Homo sapiens: one gene and its partners. The protein of the gene in region 3 interacts with the protein of the main gene of each other region in a pairwise test. Each region holds a gene or a part of one and is shown on either strand. Other genes may lie near its edges. The genes, in order: RAB5A, TNPO2 and PNMA5.

Region 1 (3,751 bases), on a different chromosome or scaffold from region 3:
ATGGCATGTATATTGTTCGTCTAAAGACTACAAAAAAGTTACAATTATTGTAAGTAAATAAGTCAGTAATAATCACCACATGGAGAACAACTGTTAGCATTTCTGTGTATGGTGTGCTTGAGCAGATGAGGAAACAGTTTTAAGTCTGCCGTTAGGCACACAAACCTGGGAGACTGAAAATATTTGTTGTCCAAAATTACCATTAATTAAATGAAAAATGCATCGTTTAACAGAAAACTTCAAATAATACTAAATTTTAGGATCTGTTCTAAAAGTTTCCCATTTATTAATAACATAATTTTTCTCAAAACAATGTTAATCCAAGTAGCCTGGCTACAGAACTTGAACTCGAGTCATCTCTCAGGTTGCCTGGGTTTGAAACTCGGCTCTGTCACTTCTGTGACAATAACTGTGTGACCTCAATTAAGCTTCTTAACATCTCTGTGCTTGTTTCCTCATTTATAAGGATTGTAATAATATCTCATTTTATAGGATTGTTGAGAAGTTAAGTACTTAAAGCACTGCCTGGCACAAACTTGAAGCTTTGAGGTTAGCCTTTAAAAAAAAAAGTAATTTTGGACTCACATCCTATACCTTTGAATTTCCTTTAAAAGATAGTGACATAATCTAAAGGGCATTGAAGGTCTAGTAGAGTTTAAGATAATCATGCTATAGGCAATATTTAAAGTGATTAATAGTAAATTTGCTTTACTGATTTGTATATTTAATTCATAATTGTTTCTTTACAGGTTTCTTTACCTCCAGAAAGAAGAATATTGGCCCCTTGAATTCTGGAAGTTCATTGAAGAGTCTGAAATTAGGGACTTATTTCAAATTTGGACATGGCTAGTCGAGGCGCAACAAGACCCAACGGGCCAAATACGGGAAATAAAATATGCCAGTTCAAACTAGTACTTCTGGGAGAGTCCGCTGTTGGCAAATCAAGCCTAGTGCTTCGTTTTGTGAAAGGCCAATTTCATGAATTTCAAGAGAGTACCATTGGGGGTGAGATTTTCTTTTTTCCCTGCTTCATTTAATCGAATCATACATTGACAGAAAATATTTTGATGTTCCAATTGTGTGATTATGAATAGCTAAATAAGTCATAGAGTGAAGAAAAGAGCTGTTCAGCTTACCTTAGCTTTAAAACTTGCCTTTATCTTTGTTAAAATGATGTGTTTTTATATTTGATTGTTTGGTTAATCCCTTGTGGTTATATTGTAGCTAAAATACAGATAAAAAACATGAGTAGAATCAGTGTCTCAAGTAATAACATTTGACCTGATACCTATTTCTAGCTAACAACTAGAAGCTTCTTCAAATTAATACAGTACATGTTTGTGCTCAATTATATTGGTTTAAAATGAATAGTAAAAAAGGTAACCTTAAATTCTGATCTATATAACTGAAGTATTTGCAAATAATTATACTTACTTGTAAAATTAAATGTAATTAAATACTGCTAGATGTACTTTTTTTTGGTATTTAAGAGATGGGATCTTGCTGTCGCCTAGGCTGGAGTGCAGTGTCCGGATCATAGCTCACTGCAGACTGCAGCCTGAAACTCTAGGCTCAAATGATCTTCTTGCCTTAGCCTCCCACCAAGTAGTTGGACCTAAGGGTGCATGCCACCATGCCAGGCAAGTTTTTTTTTTTTTTTTTTAAGAGTCAGAGTCTCGCTGTGTTTCCAGGTTGGTCTTGAACTCCTGGCCTCAAGTGAGCCTCCAGCCTCAACCTCCCAGGTAGCTGTGATTACAGGTGCTCCCTGCTGAGATGCATATGTAAGAATGCTCCTAAGCTGAGGGAAGAGAAAAAGTGATTAATGGAAAGGGACATAACAGGAAAATGGAACCTGAAGAAAAAGATGAAAGAAGAAGGGAAAGAGTAGGCACTGACAAGGGTGGTTATGGTGGGACAGAGATGAGGGGAAGGTAAGATGCAGGGTGAAAAGGAGACAACAAACAGTACAGTATTGTCAAGAGAGGACGTGAAATGGGAAAATTGAATTTTAGCTGGACATGGTGGTGCATTCCTGTAGTCCCAGGTATTTGGAGGCTGAGGCAGGATTATTTTAGCTTGGGAGTTCAAGTCTAGCCTGGGCAACATAATGAGAACCCATCTCTTAAAAAAAATTGACTTTAATCAAAGAAACCTATAATTATATAGCAGTGGGACAAGATAGCCTCTTTTGGGCCTCTGTTTCATCTGTGAAATGATGCTTTTCAATTAGATGATGTGTGGCAAGAGCCACACGGTTTGAGATTCACAATATTTTGCAAGTGATATATAATTAAGCAATGCTGTTTTCTAAGGTATTCATGTATATATTTTAACCCCATCCTGTAAAATTAAAGTCAAACTTTGGAAATAAGACAGGTAGATACCAACTGGCATGTGGCAACTTCTTGGAATCTGTCTTTCAGAAGCAAAACTTTATACTGTGCATTTAGTGAATGCTCTTCTGCAAATATACTTGAGAATGTTATTCATAATCTTAGACCCATTCTAGTAAGATAAGTTACAGAAGTCTACTACCTCCTGGCCTTTGTATATCTTGTTAAAATGTTATATTAGAATGTTTTATGTTTTTTCTAATGGCTGAGCATCAGAAAGCATCATGGAGCTTTTATTTTGAGTCAGAAGTCTTGGCATTTTAAAAAATGTTAATACACAATATATTAGACATCTTTGTGATTTTTTTTTTCCCTGAAAGTACATCCACGTGTGATTTTGTTGTTGTTGTTGTTATTGTTAATACATTATATCCAGTTTAATAATGAAATACTACTTCTCAAGAAGGCTTTGCTTCCTCCAGAAGTGATTTGGTCAAAGCTAACTGTCCCATCTAGTAGGAAAAGTTTAAAGACTGCTAGATCATGTCCACCCACTTATTTCACTGTTAATGGAAGCATTTCCCAAAGTATATGTGCATTCTGGGTTAAATAACCTGGGCCACGTAGGTTTGGGACTTACTATATGCTACTCTTCTCCTCTCTCTTTATTATTTTATTAAAACAATAAAAACTCTGAAGTACTGTAGTATAGGACTTAATTCCTGGGGAGCTTTGCAAGAGCTTAAGATTAGAATTTTTATCTTGTTTTGGATAATGCACTTCTAAGTTTATTTTTTCCTAATGATAGCTCAAGAAGGATGTTTAAAAGAAAAATGTAACCCCATATCCTGTGTATCATAAATATATCTCTGATATGTGTGTATCTCTATATAATCTCCATGTAACACCAGTTAGATTGTCTAGATTTCATTAATGAATTTTTCATAAAGATTTTCATTTCTATGTGTAGAGCTTCCTGTTTAAAAACAAAAAGGAATTTGCATCCAAATTTCTGTTAATCCTTTTTTTTTTTTTTTTTGGAGACAAGGTCTCTGTCGCCCAGGCTGGAGTGCAGTGGTGTAGCCCTGGCTCACTGCAACCTCCGCTTCCCAGGATCAAGCAATTCTCATGCCTCAGCCCCCCAAGTAGCTGGGACTACAGGCGCAAGCCACCACTCCTGGCCAATTTTTGTATTTTTAGTAGAGATGGGGTTTCACCATGTCGGTCGGGTTGGTCTTGAACTCCTGGCCTCAAGTGATCTGCCTACCTCGGGCTCTCCAAGTGCTGGGATTACAGGCATGAGCCACTGCCCCTGGCCCAACTTTCTGTTAATCTTTATTGGATACTTTTTCACTGTGCTGACCCCATGTGAATACTATTCAGGAGGTATGACAGTACCATTATGGTTATAGCTGTGG
Region 2 (3,751 bases), on a different chromosome or scaffold from region 3:
GAAATGAGTCTGGGCCAGTGATTTAAACTCTAAGCCTCAGTTTCCCTATATGTTGTGTGCGGCTGACTCTTCTCTCCATACGGTGGGTGTGGCTGGGCCCAATCAAACTGCCCCCTCTTGGTTCCCTTTCCTTGTAGGCTGCATGCAGGGCATGGTGCCCTACCTGCCTGAGCTGATCCCGCACCTGATCCAGTGCCTGTCGGATAAGAAGGCCTTGGTCCGCTCCATCGCCTGCTGGACGCTGAGCCGCTATGCCCACTGGGTGGTCAGCCAGCCACCCGACATGCACCTCAAGCCCCTGATGACAGAGCTGCTCAAACGCATCCTGGATGGCAACAAGAGGGTACAGGAGGCGGCCTGCAGGTGACCCTGGACCCCTGATCCCACAGCCCCCACTCTCCCCCGGCCACCCTCTGGGAAGTGATGACACCTGTGACTGTTGATGTGGAACTGATTTATCGCGTATTCGTACTGGCTGATCCTGAGTTGCCCTCCCCAACTGCCCATGGCCCAGTGTCACCTGCCATGGTCCACTGAGCCCCCGCTTCATCCTCCCTCCCACCAGTGCTTTTGCCACCCTGGAGGAAGAGGCCTGCACGGAGCTGGTGCCCTACCTCAGCTACATCCTGGACACCCTTGTCTTTGCCTTTGGGAAATACCAGCACAAGAACCTGCTCATCCTCTATGACGCCATTGGCACCCTGGCCGACTCTGTAGGCCACCACCTCAACCAGCCGGTGAGACCCCAGAGCGGCTCCCGCCTCCCGATCCCCGTGCCCCTGGGCATCCAGTGACCTGGTGGCAACCCCGTGTTGCACGCCAGGGACGTGGCCGTGACCTCGACAGGCAGACAGACAGACCCGGCCCCGCCCTCGCCCTGCTCCCAGTCTAGTGGGGGAGAAAGACAGTTATGAGACAGCGTGGTAAGTGCTGTGCTTCGGGAACCAGGAGGTGGTAACCCAGGCTCCCGGGGGGTGGGGTGGGGCGGGCGGTGCTTGGACAGGTGAGAAGAATGAAGGCCTCGAGGTCTGGCCAGATGGCAGGCCTTTCAGGGTCCCATGAGCCACGGTGAGGCGCTCAGGCCTCATCACTCGGGCAACAGGTACCTGAGTCACAGTCTGCCACCCCGACCCAGGGAGCGCCCATTTCGTGCTCCCTCTCCAGGAATACATCCAGAAGCTGATGCCCCCACTGATCCAGAAGTGGAATGAGCTCAAGGACGAAGACAAGGACCTCTTCCCCCTGCTGGAGGTGAGTGGGCTCCTGCCCCTCACCCGAAACCCATCCTGCCCACCCTGCCTGAGTTCTCCCCACCTGCCTTCCTCCCTGCCAGTGTCTGTCATCGGTGGCCACCGCCCTGCAGAGTGGCTTCCTGCCTTACTGTGAGCCCGTCTACCAGCGCTGTGTCACCCTGGTGCAGAAGACACTGGCTCAGGCCATGGTGAGCAACCCTAGGCCCGTCACCTGTGCTTCTGCATTGGCCTGCCTCGGGCCTGCTCCACTTACCCGTGCCCCTGTCGGCATCTGTGTCTAGATGTACACCCAGCACCCTGAGCAGTATGAGGCTCCCGACAAGGACTTCATGATCGTAGCACTGGATCTGCTCAGCGGCCTGGCCGAGGGCCTGGGTGGTCACGTGGAGCAGCTGGTGGCCCGCAGCAACATCATGACATTGCTGTTCCAGTGCATGCAGGTGGGTGGGGACCCTGGACAGTGATGACACCCAGCAGCCTGCGTGGGCTGCCCCTGGTGGGGAGTCAGGGCCTGGTTGTGCCCAAAGGAAATCAGGGAAAAGGTGCTGTTCTAATTATTTTAAAGAGTAATCCTGGAGGCCGAGGCAGGATTGCTTGAGCCCAGGAGTTTGAGACCAGCCTGGGCAACATAGTGAAACCCCAGTTCTAAAATTAAAAAAAAAAATTTTTTTTAAAGCAAACAGTATTGAAAATAGAAAATGTGAGGCCAGGTGCTCACGCCTATAATCCAGCACTTTGGGAGGCTGTGGCAGGTGAATCACTTGAGGTCAGGAGTTTGAGAGCAGCTTGGCCAACACGGTGAAATCCTGTCTCTACGAAAAATACAAAAATTAGCCAGGCATGGTGGTAGGCGCCTGTAATCCCAGCTACTTGGAAGGCTGAGGCAGGAGAATTGCTTGAACCCAGGAGGCAGAGGTTGCAGTGAGCTGAGATCATGCCACTGCACTCCAGCCTGGGCAATAAACTGAGACTCTGTCTTCAAAAAAAAAGAAAGAAAAGAAAATAGAAAATGTGAAAGCCCAAGTCCCTGCCCCAGCACAGTTGGCTCTCTGTATCTGTGGGTTCTACATCCCAAGATTCAAGTAACCTCAGATTGAAAATACTCAGAGGAAAAATTACATCTGTACTGAACGCATACAGAAGTTTGTTCTTGTTATTATTCCCTAAACAATACAGTATAACAACTATTCCCATACTGTTGACATTGTATTAGATATAAGTGATTTAGAGATGATGCTAAGTGTACAGGAGAATGTGCATAGGTGCATATGCAAACACTATGCCCCCCCCACCGCCCCCCACCTGTTTTTTGAGACAGAGTCTCACTCTGTCACCCAGGCTGGAGTGCAATGGTGTGATCTCGGCTCACTGCAACCTTCACCTCCAGGGTTCAAGCAGTTCTCCTGCCTTAGCCTCTCAAGAAGCTGGGACTACAGGCGTGTCCCACTATGCCTGGCTAATTTTATTGTATTTTTAGTAAAGACAGGGTTTTGCCATGTTGGCCAGGCTGGTCTCAAACTCCTGACCTCAAGTGATCTGCCTGCCTCGGCCTGCCAAAGTGCTGGAGATTACAGGCATGAACCACTGCGCCTGGCCCTAACACTGTGCCACTTTATATCAAGGACTTGCACATCCGTGGATTTTTATATCTGCAGGGACCTGGAAAGAATCCCCCACGGACACTGAGGGATGACCGTTGGGGCACTGCCATCTCCCATTTGCAGATGTGGGCTGGAGGCTAGGGAGGTTAAGGAACAGCTAGGAGCTCTAGAACTGGAAAGTGGCAGAGGCTGGACATGCACCAGGGACTGTGCCCCCTGAGCTGTCCTGGTTAGAAGGAGGGGAGCCTAGCCACACTGATCTTACTTGAATCCCCAGGACTCGATGCCTGAGGTCCGGCAGAGCTCCTTTGCCCTCCTGGGAGACCTCACCAAAGCCTGCTTCATCCATGTCAAGCCCTGTATCGGTACGACACTCGCCTTGTCCCTAACCCATGACCCCAGCCCCGGCCTCAAGTGATGGAGAGCAATACCCGGGGATGACTGTGACCACATTGGGATGTATTCGTACTGTCTGATGGGGCCTGCTGGACTAGGTCCTGCAGCTTACCCTGGCTGGCCCTCCTTCTCAGCACCCCTGTTTCTCCCCACCAGCCGAGTTCATGCCCATTCTGGGCACCAACCTGAACCCAGAGTTCATCTCCGTCTGCAACAACGCCACCTGGGCCATTGGTGAAATCTGCATGCAGATGGGTGAGTGCCCTGCAAGTGGCAACACGCGCCCCCCATTAGCCTGTTCTCAACCTGGGGGCGGGAGCCTAGCTCTGACTGACAGCTTCCTTCAAGGCAAGTCTCTTGGGGGTCGTCAGGGGTGGAGCCAAGCAGAAAGGTCATTTGTGATTGGCTTCTCTAAAGAGGAGGGATAGGAGGGCTGTTCTGATTGGACCGTTTTGTGTAGTTGGCTAAAAGACTCATTCGGATTGGTTGGGTGACTTTGGC
Region 3 (2,944 bases):
CAGAGGTCATGCCCCAAGTTAGATCCCCACCTTTAGAGCCTCCGAAAGAAAGTATGTGGTACAGGAAACTGAAAGTGTTTTCGGGAACTGCTTCCCCTAGCCCAGGCGAAGAGACCTTTGAAGACTGGCTAGAGCAGGTCACTGAGATAATGCCCATATGGCAAGTGTCTGAGGTGGAGAAGAGGCGGCGTTTGCTGGAGAGCTTACGTGGGCCTGCTCTGTCAATCATGCGGGTGCTCCAGGCCAACAATGACTCCATAACTGTGGAGCAGTGCCTTGACGCCCTAAAGCAGATCTTTGGGGATAAAGAGGACTTTAGAGCCTCTCAGTTTAGGTTTCTGCAGACCTCTCCGAAGATTGGAGAGAAAGTCTCCACTTTCCTGCTGCGCTTAGAGCCCCTGCTGCAGAAAGCCGTGCACAAGAGCCCCTTGTCAGTGCGCAGCACAGACATGATTCGTCTGAAACATCTCTTAGCTCGGGTCGCCATGACCCCCGCCCTCAGGGGCAAGCTGGAGCTCTTGGATCAGCGAGGGTGTCCTCCCAATTTTCTGGAGTTAATGAAGCTCATTCGAGATGAAGAAGAGTGGGAGAACACTGAGGCAGTGATGAAGAATAAGGAGAAGCCATCAGGGAGAGGCCGGGGGGCCTCCGGTAGACAGGCAAGAGCAGAAGCCAGTGTCTCTGCACCTCAGGCCACCGTGCAGGCAAGGTCTTTTAGCGACAGCAGCCCCCAGACCATACAGGGAGGCTTACCCCCATTAGTGAAACGCAGGCGGCTGTTAGGCAGTGAAAGCACTAGGGGAGAAGACCATGGCCAGGCCACGTATCCCAAGGCTGAAAACCAGACTCCAGGCAGGGAGGGGCCACAGGCTGCAGGAGAGGAGTTGGGAAACGAGGCAGGGGCTGGGGCCATGAGCCATCCCAAGCCCTGGGAAACATAGGCTCAGAAGACCGAAGCACTCCTTCCCCTGGCAGGCAGCAGGGACATTTGAACAAGGGGAAGGGGCAGCTTACACTAACAGGGAACTTGACTGGGGCAGAGGGACAGGGAAGCCAGGTCGAGATCAAGCCCCCTTACTTTCCACCAGCTGGAAGGGACTTCACCAACCAAGACCAAATAGCATCTGGTTCAGTGGGGGCCGGGCCCATAGCCCCTAACAGGTACAGGAGACACAAGCGGGGAACCACTACACTTAGCACATGGGGTGCCTGGGCTTCAGATGGGGACCCCAGCGAAGCAGGGGCTGAAGAAGGTGTGGCTGGGGGCTCTGGCCTGGTCCTCTGGACACCCCCAAATATCTACCCTGTGGACTTTGAGCTGAGCATGCCCACTGGCACCCAGGCCACGTGGGACCTGGAGGAGCCTGCCTGGGGCCTGCCTCTGCCAGAAGGAGCCAGGGCTGCTGAGGAAGAGCTGTGGGGCAGAAGTGAAGCCCCGCAGGGGAGGCCACAGGGTCCAGCCTGTCTTTAGGATCATCTACACTGCATGAGGGGAGCCCCAGGAAGGCAGCATTCATAAGCCCCTGCACCAGTGAGGAAGAGAAAGAGGAGGAGAATTAAGAAGAGGATGATCGGGAGGAGGAAGAGGAGAATAAGGAGGAGCAGGAGGAAGAGGGGGAGGAGAAGGAGGAAGAGGGGGAGGAGGAAGAGGGGAAGGAGGAGGAAGAAGTGTAAGAAGAGAAGAGAGGATGTGTTGGGGGTGGGTAGTTGTTTTTGGTTTGCGTCATCATCAGGCCCGGGCTCTGCTCACTGCTGTTCCGTGTCAAGAACTCCACCTCTGCTTTGCCGGTGTAGATCTCGGCCAGTGGCTGCTTGTTCTCTTGGGGATGTGTGTGTTTTTATCTGAGCAGCTCCTTTCCAGAGTACCCCAGCGCAGTTCCAGGAGACGGTGGGAAGGAGGCATGGCAGACGCTCACCTTGTGACTGTGACCTCGACTGCAGGAGGACCAACCAGACACGGGAAGGAGCAGGGCTGCCTGAGGCTCCCCAGGAAGCTTTGTGCTTTGGCGTTCCACCCCTGCTGTTACTCGTGACTCAGTTTCCTCAACTTGGTGGGGTGTTCCCTGCTATGTTTTCCAGCATCCTGTGACTGTCCTGTGCAGTCTATAGGGCAGGGCCCTGCCCCAGCGGGTGGGCTCAGGAGGGGGTTCCCTGAAGCGAGTACACATTGCCAGAGCCCACCATCCTGGCAAGAGGTGGATCCTGGGGCCCTATGGAAGGAGGGATGTGGTGGGGGGGGCCACACTGAGGGAGGGGCCGGGGACTTGTGACCTGTAGTGGCTGTTTGCAGTTTCTCTCTGTGTTAGATTCCCTTTTCTTCAGCAGTTTCAGTTCATGTTTCTCTTCAGTAAATTTTGTTCAGTGTTCCAGTGGTGTCTTGCCTCTGCTGTGTGAAACTGGGGTGGGAGGTGGTCTGCTGGGGATGGGGCCACAGTGGCCAGGCTGACATCGAGGTGTGTGTGGGGCAGGGTCTATGAGGGCCTGTGGGGTGCCTTGGGCTGCATGGAGCCTGGCAACAGGATGCTGGTGGTCATGAGCAGTGACTGGCTGGGTACCAAAGGCACTCCAGGTGTCCTCAGGAATAAGTGACTTGGACATTGAAGGCTGGGCAAGGGGCAGCAGGTGGGTCCCAGGCCCCTGATCCCTGGCAGCACTGTAGGGGTGTGGCTCAAGGCTTCCGGAAGGGTCAGAGAGGCCACGTGTGCAACCAAGGCCAGCAACCGAGGTCAGAGAAGAGCCCCAGGAGGGCCTGGACAGGCAGTCAGAGGCCCTGTGAAGAGCTGTGTGCAGGACTCGGGGTGGGGTAGGGGCTGGTGTGTGCCCATCCTCCCAGATCAGCCCGCAGGTGGCCAGCCTTGGCCTAGCCACTGAGGGATGTTTGGGGACAGTGTGTGTGTGATGGCCAAGGGGACAGAGTGTGGGCGAGAAAGGGATCCCAAGTGCT

What was found.
Region 1: the proteins of PNMA5 (region 3) and RAB5A interact in binary tests that used the Homo sapiens proteins (3 or more experiments, as listed by UniProt).
Region 2: the proteins of PNMA5 (region 3) and TNPO2 interact in binary tests that used the Homo sapiens proteins (3 or more experiments, as listed by UniProt).

The regions. Positions count from the first base shown.
Region 1 is NC_000003.12:19,950,057-19,953,807, forward strand, and holds part of RAB5A (ras-related protein Rab-5A), read left to right. Parts: intron 1-749; 5' UTR 750-842; coding exon 843-1,005; intron 1,006-3,751. UniProt on the Homo sapiens protein: The small GTPases Rab are key regulators of intracellular membrane trafficking, from the formation of transport vesicles to their fusion with membranes.
Region 2 is NC_000019.10:12,703,182-12,706,932, reverse strand, and holds part of TNPO2 (transportin-2), read left to right. Parts: intron 1-137; coding exon 138-363; intron 364-414; exon of another isoform or gene 415-484; intron 485-565; coding exon 566-737; intron 738-1,164; coding exon 1,165-1,251; intron 1,252-1,333; coding exon 1,334-1,441; intron 1,442-1,534; coding exon 1,535-1,693; intron 1,694-3,131; coding exon 3,132-3,219; intron 3,220-3,261; exon of another isoform or gene 3,262-3,336; intron 3,337-3,406; coding exon 3,407-3,505; intron 3,506-3,751. UniProt on the Homo sapiens protein: Probably functions in nuclear protein import as nuclear transport receptor. Serves as receptor for nuclear localization signals (NLS) in cargo substrates.
Region 3 is NC_000023.11:152,988,249-152,991,192, reverse strand, and holds the end of PNMA5 (paraneoplastic antigen-like protein 5), read left to right. Parts: coding exon 1-941; 3' UTR 942-2,369; downstream 2,370-2,944.